Linked DNA regions of Homo sapiens: regions 2 and 3 are each linked to region 1. The links come from fine-mapping of genetic effects on plasma protein levels. Region 1 holds a variant in brackets. A gene starts in each other region. All regions are shown on their forward strands.

Region 1 (2,755 bases):
CAAGAATGGCTTGGACCCGGGAGGCGGAGGTTGCAGTGAGCCGAGATTGTGCCACTGCACTTCAGCCTGGGCGACAGAGTCAGACTCCACCTGGAAACAAACAAAAAAACGAATGCCTCATAGTCATAGTGGTGATTTTTAGGTGATGGAATAACACTACTTTAATCTTTCTAATTTTCTGTATTACTTTTGTAACTGAAAAAAAGTAAACAAACTAGATTAAAGTAAATCAAAACTGATACTTTGATCTCTCTGCTACTTGAGCACTTGTTTCTATCCCAGACACAACCACCCTCTCTCTCTGATTTCATTGCCATATGACCACGTTAGGTTTACTTGAAAGGGACGCCAATCTATGCTATTCATGCTTTTTTCAGCTTTAACTTCTCACTTTATATTTCTGCTTTCTTGTGAAATTATTTTATTCTTTTTTCGTTGTTGTTTTTTAAGAGAGACGCGGGCCAGACATGGTAGCTCATGCCTGTGATCCCAGTACTTTGGGAGGCAGAGACAGGAGGATCACTTGAGCCCAGGAGCGAGACCAGCTGGAGCAACATAGCAAGACCCTGTCTCTACAAAAAAAGAATTAAAGGCCAGGCGTGGTGGCTCATGCCTGTAATCCCAGCACTTTGGGAGGCCGAGGCAGGTGGATCACCTGAGGTCAGGAGTTCGAGACCAGCCTGACCAACATGGTGAAAAACCATCTCTACTAAAAATACAAAAATCAGCTGGGTGTGGTGGTGGGTGCCTATAATCCCAGCTACTCGGGAGGCTGAGGCAGGAGAATCACTTAAACTCGGGAGGCGGAGGTTGCAGTGAGCAAAGATCATGCCATTGCACTCCAGCCTGGGTGACAAGAGTGAAACTCCATCTCAAAAAATAATAAAAAAAAAAAAGAATTAAAAAATTAGCTGGGTATGGTGGTATGTGCTTGTAGTCCCAACTACTTTGGGAAGCTGAAGTAGGAGGATTGCTTGAGACTGGGAGGTCGAGACTGCAGTGAGCTGTGATCGTGCCACTGCACTCTAGCCTAGGTGATAGAACAAGACCCTTTGGGCAACAGAGCAAACAAAAAGAGAGAGAGATGGGGGTCTCACTATGATGCCCAGGCTGGACTCGAACTCCTGGGAGCAAGCAATGTGCCCATCTCAACCTCCCAAGTAGCTGGGATTACAGGCGCACACCAATGCACCCAGCTCCCTTATTCTTTATTCTGAATGTTGTAGGAATAGGCCACCATGTATTGTATGTCAGAGGTTTGCCATCAAAAACAGAACCACTCATTCTCAAGCATGAATATCTAGTCTTCTTAGTAGTTACAGTTTTCTCTGTGGATTAATGAATCAACATTCTAGTATGCATATGTGTCTACATTAAGGATGTCAGGGGGACACAAAGAGGTAACCCATCAGATAGCTGCCAAGTCAATCTGAATATTGCAAGAATTTCAAACTTACTTTAGAGAGATAAATCTTTACTAATTTTTGCATTTAAAGAGAGCAATTTGGTTGCTTGGACATAGTCACCCAAGGCAGCCTTGATGGAAGCAGCCAATTTACTGGAAATCAATTAAACATATGATGAATTTGCTAAAAGCTAGTCTCCAAAATGACCAATTTGCCAAATTGCTAAATATTTATAGTTTT[A/C]ATCTTGCCTTGGGTTTGCACATTTAGTCCTGTTTGGATGCATGTTGATTCCACGTTGGGTTCATATTTCAGATATGAAACACTTCCTGAATCTTCCATTTTCACACATTAGTGATTACAGTTTCATATAAGTTTTATTTTGCCCTACCACCACTGCTGCTGTCCCCAAGGCTGTTGATGCTCCTGTCTGCCTCTGCTGAGATGAATAAACTTCCAAGATCTGTGTGTGCACATGCAGAAATTTTTCCTTTGACAAAGTCCTAGGAATGTCAAATAATATGTAGATATATAAGACTTGATGCAAATTGCCAGAATCACCAAATATTTGCAATGATGCCAATTTACATTCACATCACCTGGGTATAAGACACCAGTTGAGGCCAGGCGTGGTAGCTCATGCCTGTAATCCCAGCACTTTGGGGGGCCGAGGCGGGCGGATCACCTGAGGTCAGGAGTTTGGGACCAGCCCAGCCAACATGGTGAAACCTCATCTCTACAAAAAACACAAAAATTAGCCAGGTGTGGTGACACTTGCCCGTAATCTCAGCTACTTGGGGGCGCTGAGGCAGGAGAATCACTTGAATTTAGGAGGCGGAGGTTGCAGTGTGTGTCACTGCACTCCAGCCTGGGTGACAGAGTGAGACTCCGTCTCAAAAAATAAAAGAAAAAAGACACCAGTTGAGGATCTTAATTTGAATTCTCTTCCTACCAGCAGTGACTGAGGCTGCTTGATTCCTATGCCTGGCCAATGCCACGTATCATCAATTTTTGTTTTCATCTTTGCCTGCATGGAAGGCTAACAATGATGTCTCATTGCTTTTTTAATGTGCATGTTTTTGTTTATTAATGAAGTTAAACTTTTTTTTAGGCTTAATGACCGTTTTAACTTCTCTGAAATACCTGCTCATGGCTTTTGTCCATTTTTAGTGTTGGGCTTTATATTCATACAGACATTGATTCTATATCATAGTTTTCCCAGCTTGCCTTTCTACTTTGCTTATTGTGATTTTTCAGAAGCAGTTTTCATTTTTCTCTAGTCAAGTTTTAGTATTTTCCCCTTCCTTCAGATTTCTTTCCTCTGCTTTTCACCTAAGAAAGGCCTTCCTCAT
Region 2 (2,755 bases), not on the chromosome of region 1:
TCGCTCAAAATTCACCCGAAAATGCGCTGAGACTTTGGCATGGGGCTGCGCTGTGTCCCACTGACGTTACAGAAGCGCTTATGAATTTAAAAACTGCTCCAGGCGGCCGGACGGCGGGACAACGCCTCCTCACTTGCTCCTCTACGGCAAGGCCCCTTCCTTCTCCCTGCCGGCTGCGGTGGTGTGTAGGGTGGTCCCTTTACAGAGTTTCCTTAATCCATCTAGCCTGACCTCACCTGCGGGATGTTCCATTTCCCGATCCACCTCCCACACCCCCGCTGCAGTTGTCTAGAAGCTGGGGCTGGGGAACTGAGGCGCGGGAGGAGCAGACAGGAGGGCCGGGGTTGGGGCGCCAGCCACGCGTTGGGAGAGCAGACCCGGGTGCAGACTCAGAGGACTGGAGAGGCGGCATGGAGTTTGGTCTCCTGGGAGGTAGAGTGAGGTGCTGCGGACTCCAGGGAGGAAAGGGATGGGTGGGGAGGCGGGAGGGGAGGAGGGACGGGGTATTTTGCGCTCCCGCACCGCGGCCCGAACTCAGCTGTTCTGCCTTCACTGGCCTCAGCCAGTCGAGGGAGCTCCTACGAGGTTATCTGCGAGCCCAGCAAATCTTGGGGGTCCTAGCCAAATGCAGTGCGCAACGTTCTCTCTCACTTGGAGGCCGCCATTCACCTCGTTTTTTTTTTTCCTAAAAGGATTTTTTTTTCTGAGTGCTTTTTTCATTTCCCTATTTTACCTGCTTTGCACATGCCTCCCGCCCTCACCCGGGAGGCGGCGAAGACGCCCACTGGGACCGCGCCTGGCCGTTTTCTGGGCGCGTCCTGCCCCCACGGCCTCTGTCTCTTAGGGCGACTGGGCGCGGAAGAAAAGCTGGAGAGCCCCTGCGGGGTGGCAGGAGGAGGGTGCCTGAGTCCCGCGAGAGGCCCGGGCGAGGAAGATGCGCAGCCTGCTGATCCGCGTCCCGCCCGGCGCCAGGGACCCTCAGAGGGAGGAGAGCTCAAAGACCTCGCCCCGCGCCTTCGCGAGGACCAACCCAGTCCCCGCGCCTGCCCCAGAGCGGCTTAGAAACTCAGGGCACAGTGAGAGCGCAGGGCGCCTCCCGAGGCTTCACACCGCCGGCCGGGCCAGCGGAGGCTGTGACCGGAGCGCCCCCTCTGTGCCGCGCACGCCGCGGCCGCCGCCGGGTTGGGGTAGGTGAGCGGGAGGCTAGGGTACACTTCGGGGTGGGGGATGGGCGCGCACATGGCCGCCAGCAGGCAGAGTTACTCCGGTAAACACGCCAGGGACGGCGGCGCGCGCGGGAGGCAACCCAGCGGGGCAACCCCCGCCTTTACCTGTCCGAGCCTGCACGCGCCGGCGGCCGCGGCGCCGAGGGGGGCGGAGCTTGCCAGCCCGCGCGCCGGGGCGGGACCTAGCGGGGGCGGGGTCCGCAGTGATTGGGCGTAGGAGCGGGGCCGCCAGCCAGAGCTGGGCTGCAGGGCCGCGCAGGTTTCACTTCGCTCCGCGCAGCCGCCTGGTCTGCAGTTTGTTGGAGCTCTGCGTCCAGCGCCGCTGCCGCTGCCGCCGCCGCCGCCGCCGCCGCCGCCGCCGCCGCCGCCGCCACTACCACCACTTGATTCTTGCAGCCACCCTGCGAACCCTGCCACACTGCGATCGCATCATCGCGGTATTCGGTTCGCTGCGTTCCCGCCGCCACCGCCTCGGCGCCCTTTCTTGGCCCTTGTTCCCCCAAATGTCTGACTCTGACTCTCGGACTGAGAAACGCAAGGTAAATACCTCCAAATCCCGGGGCGCGGGCCTGGCACCGAAGGAAGACTAGCGCTGGAGCCCGAACGGCACCACCTACTGCCCGCTTCCCGTGCACGTGCGAGCGGAGACGCTTGCATCGGCGCCGCTTGTCGCCGGCGGGAGGTGGGGATCCGTGTGGATCGGGTTCCCTCTCGGGCAGGTTCTCTTTAAAGAAAAGTCGTTCACGCGGAACCTGCAGGCTCTTGGCCGAAGTGCGGCTTGGGACGGGATGCTGCGCGCGGGCCTGGTGAAGGGTCGTAGGTCCGGGCAGGAGGAGAGGCAGCGCGTGCCTTTCGGCGCCGGCCCGGGAGCTGAGGACCTGCTCGTAGTATCGGGCTGTGCGCCCAGCTGGAAAGTCTCGCCGCCGGCTCCGGCGCCCTCAGAGTAGCGGCCGCGCAGTGTGAGGGTGTTTCGTGTCTTGGTTTTTTGGGGCGCGTGGGCCTGTTGCGGAGGATTTGCGGAACTGCGGTGGTGATTTAACTGACGAGACACGGCTTTTCCTTTTACTCATTCAGGCCAAGGTTTCGGGGCCACTGCTGCGTTCGCTTTCTCAAGCGTACCTGGGGCCCCTGCTTGCTCTGCAGGAGTCCTGCGGCCTGTGCCATCCGCACGATTCCCTGGCAGCGAGAAATCTAGGTCCTCCCCTGACCACCTGGACCGCGCAGGGGACTAGTCGCGGCCGGCAGAACCTGCTCGGTCCCTGGGCCGGGCTATCTTAGCGGCTCACGCATGCCCGAGCACACCCGACCCGGTTCGCGGTGCAGGCTGGCGGCGCCGTGCCCTCTGGGACCTGTTGCCCCAGGGTTGGCGCTGCTGGTGGAGGGCCCGACGGACGCCAGGGCGGAGGGTGTGAATTTACTCGATGGTCGCGGACGTGCGCGTCCGCGGCCAGGGGTGGCTCTTCGGCTTTGACTCGTGTCTGCGGCGCACCAGGAGAGAGAGGAAGTTGTTGGAGGAGAATAGTTGCCAC
Region 3 (2,755 bases), not on the chromosome of region 1:
TTATTACCTTTTAAAAATGTACTTTGTGGCTAGGCATGGTGGCTCACGCCTGTAGTCCCCGCACCGGGAGGCCGAGGTGGGTGGATTGCTTGAGCTCAGGAGTTCAAGACCAGCCTGGGCAACACGGCGAAACCCAGTCTCTACCAAAAATACACACACACACACACACACACACACACACACACACACACACACACAAATTGGCCTAGCGTGGTGTCGTGTGTCTGTGGTCGCAGTTACTCAGGAGACCAAGGTAGGAGGTAGGAAACCAAGGTAGGAGGATCACCCGAGGTCGGTAGTTCGAGACCAGCCTGACCAACATGGAGAAACCCTGTCTTTACTAAAAATACAAAATTAGCTGGGCGTGGTGGTGCATGCCTGTAATTCCAGCTACTTGGGAGGCTGAGACAGGAGAATGGCTTGAACCCGGAAGGCGGAGTTTGCGGTGAGCTGAGATCGCGTCATTGCACTCCAGCCTGGGCAACAAGAGCAAAACTCCGTCTCAAAAAAAAAAAAATATATATATATATGTGTGTGTGTGTGTGTGTGTGTGTATGTATATATATATATGTATGTGTATATATATGTATGTGTGTGTGTGTGCATATATATATATACACTTTGTTTAATTGTAAGTGTGTTTAGTTTAATTTTTAATAATGTCCGTGATTAACAGCTGGCTGGCAAGATTCCTGAGAACTGAAGAGTTTGCCCCAGCCCATCCAGCACACCATGGGCCCAGGGCAGACCTTGGGGCTAGGCGGTCTTGGGTTCCAGAGGGCTCCCATGCCCCTGTCCTATTGCTCTTCTGGCAATAGGACATTTACGCGGGGGGGGGGGTGGTTCTTGATTCTGGGTCTTTTAGGGGACTCTGTGATTAAGAAACAGCAGGGATGTTGCAACAGCAGGGATGAGGTGGGCCTGGGGACGGGTCAGTGAAGGGTCTTCATTCCTAGCTGCTGACCTGATCTGCCCTGAGATAAAAGACTAAGACCCAGAGAGTGAACGCTGTCCGCGGGGGCAGAAGCGAGTGAGGCGTCGGGACAGTGGGGCATAACCAAGAGCAAAACGCAAACTGAGACTTCAGCGCCGGTTTCTCGGGCCAGCCCACGCCTCCTGCCTCAGCTCAATGCCACTCCCTCCCCGCCAAGTGGCTCTCCGCTCTGGAGGCGGGACCGAGTTCTCCGGTGGCCCCTGGAGGCTCCGGCAGCGAGCTCTGGGAGGCTGGGAGGGGAGTGAGGGGAGGGGCGCTGACTGGGCCGTCCAAAGAGGAGGGGGCCTTTAATAGGCTCGCCCAGCGCCTGGCTTGCTGCGCTGCGAGTGGCTGCGGTTGCGAGAAGCCGCCCGGCACCTTCCGCTAGTTCTCGGCTGCAAATCTTCGTCCTTGCACTTGACAGCGATTGTACTTAAGCTCCCAGGGCGCGCTTTGCTTGGAAAGGCACAGGTAGGAAGCGCGGGCTGCCGGGTGCACGCTCGCCGCCCTGGGAGGAGTCTCCCTCCCTTGGCTCTCCTTTCTGGGAACTGCCGGCTGTCCCGTAGCGTTGGCGGTTCCAGAGTGCGGGCTGCACGGAGACCGCGGCAGCGGCCGGAGAGCCCGGCCCAGCCCCTTCCCACAGCGCGGCGGTGCGCTGCCCGGCGCCATGCTTCTGCTGGGCATCCTAACCCTGGCTTTCGCCGGGCGAACCGCTGGAGGCTCTGAGCCAGAGCGGGAGGTAGTCGTTCCCATCCGACTGGACCCGGACATTAACGGCCGCCGCTACTACTGGCGGGGTCCCGAGGACTCCGGGGATCAGGGACTCATTTTTCAGATCACAGCATTTCAGGAGGACTTTTACCTACACCTGACGCCGGATGCTCAGTTCTTGGCTCCCGCCTTCTCCACTGAGCATCTGGGCGTCCCCCTCCAGGGGCTCACCGGGGGCTCTTCAGACCTGCGACGCTGCTTCTATTCTGGGGACGTGAACGCCGAGCCGGACTCGTTCGCTGCTGTGAGCCTGTGCGGGGGGCTCCGCGGAGCCTTTGGCTACCGAGGCGCCGAGTATGTCATTAGCCCGCTGCCCAATGCTAGCGCGCCGGCGGCGCAGCGCAACAGCCAGGGCGCACACCTTCTCCAGCGCCGGGGTGTTCCGGGCGGGCCTTCCGGAGACCCCACCTCTCGCTGCGGGGTGGCCTCGGGCTGGAACCCCGCCATCCTACGGGCCCTGGACCCTTACAAGCCGCGGCGGGCGGGCTTCGGGGAGAGTCGTAGCCGGCGCAGGTCTGGGCGCGCCAAGCGTTTCGTGTCTATCCCGCGGTACGTGGAGACGCTGGTGGTCGCGGACGAGTCAATGGTCAAGTTCCACGGCGCGGACCTGGAACATTATCTGCTGACGCTGCTGGCAACGGCGGCGCGACTCTACCGCCATCCCAGCATCCTCAACCCCATCAACATCGTTGTGGTCAAGGTGCTGCTTCTTAGAGATCGTGACTCCGGGCCCAAGGTCACCGGCAATGCGGCCCTGACGCTGCGCAACTTCTGTGCCTGGCAGAAGAAGCTGAACAAAGTGAGTGACAAGCACCCCGAGTACTGGGACACTGCCATCCTCTTCACCAGGCAGGTGAGTTGATCTGCCGTCACTTTGCACCCAGATAGTCCCGTTCTTTAGGGTCACCTCCCCTAGCGCTCCAAATCCCCTTTGTATCGTGCAATGCCTCCGAGTTTAAACCTCGTTGATCTCTTCCGACTCCAACTCTGTGGAGTTTCCAGGGAGAGCCC

Which allele goes with the higher level. Positions count from the first base shown, and alleles are read on the strand shown. Strength reflects both the effect of a copy and how common the allele is.
For the plasma level of the protein whose gene starts at base 1,491 in region 2, allele C in region 1 goes with a lower level than allele A (moderate association).
As copies of A replace C in region 1, the plasma level of the protein whose gene starts at base 1,312 in region 3 goes up (weak association).

What was found. PIP is the posterior inclusion probability: the model's chance that the variant is causal. Protein levels are from antibody-based Olink assays in UK Biobank. Linkage for the fine-mapping came from a reference panel and not from the study's own genotypes, which makes the PIPs less certain.
Region 2: BCL2L11 starts here. The variant in region 1 is fine-mapped to the plasma level of the BCL2L11 protein (UK Biobank, PIP above 0.99).
Region 3: it holds the start of ADAMTS15, and the variant in region 1 is fine-mapped to the plasma level of the ADAMTS15 protein (UK Biobank, PIP above 0.99).

The regions. Positions count from the first base shown.
Region 1 is chr3:186,734,745-186,737,499 of GRCh38, forward strand. All of the region lies in intron 7 of KNG1 (kininogen 1), which reads left to right. Among named protein-coding and RNA genes, the nearest start is that of KNG1, 19 kb to the left of the region's middle. The variant A/C (reference allele first, on the strand shown) is at 1,647.
Region 2 is chr2:111,119,424-111,122,178 of GRCh38, forward strand. It overlaps BCL2L11 (BCL2 like 11), which reads left to right and starts at 1,491. Exons shown (of 4, transcript NM_138621.5): 1 at 1,491-1,765. RefSeq lists enhancers at 696-775, 1,926-2,045 and silencers at 1,056-1,595, 1,929-2,223.
Region 3 is chr11:130,447,334-130,450,088 of GRCh38, forward strand. ADAMTS15 (ADAM metallopeptidase with thrombospondin type 1 motif 15) reads left to right here and starts at 1,312. Exons shown (of 8, transcript NM_139055.4): 1 at 1,312-2,597. The coding sequence starts at 1,641.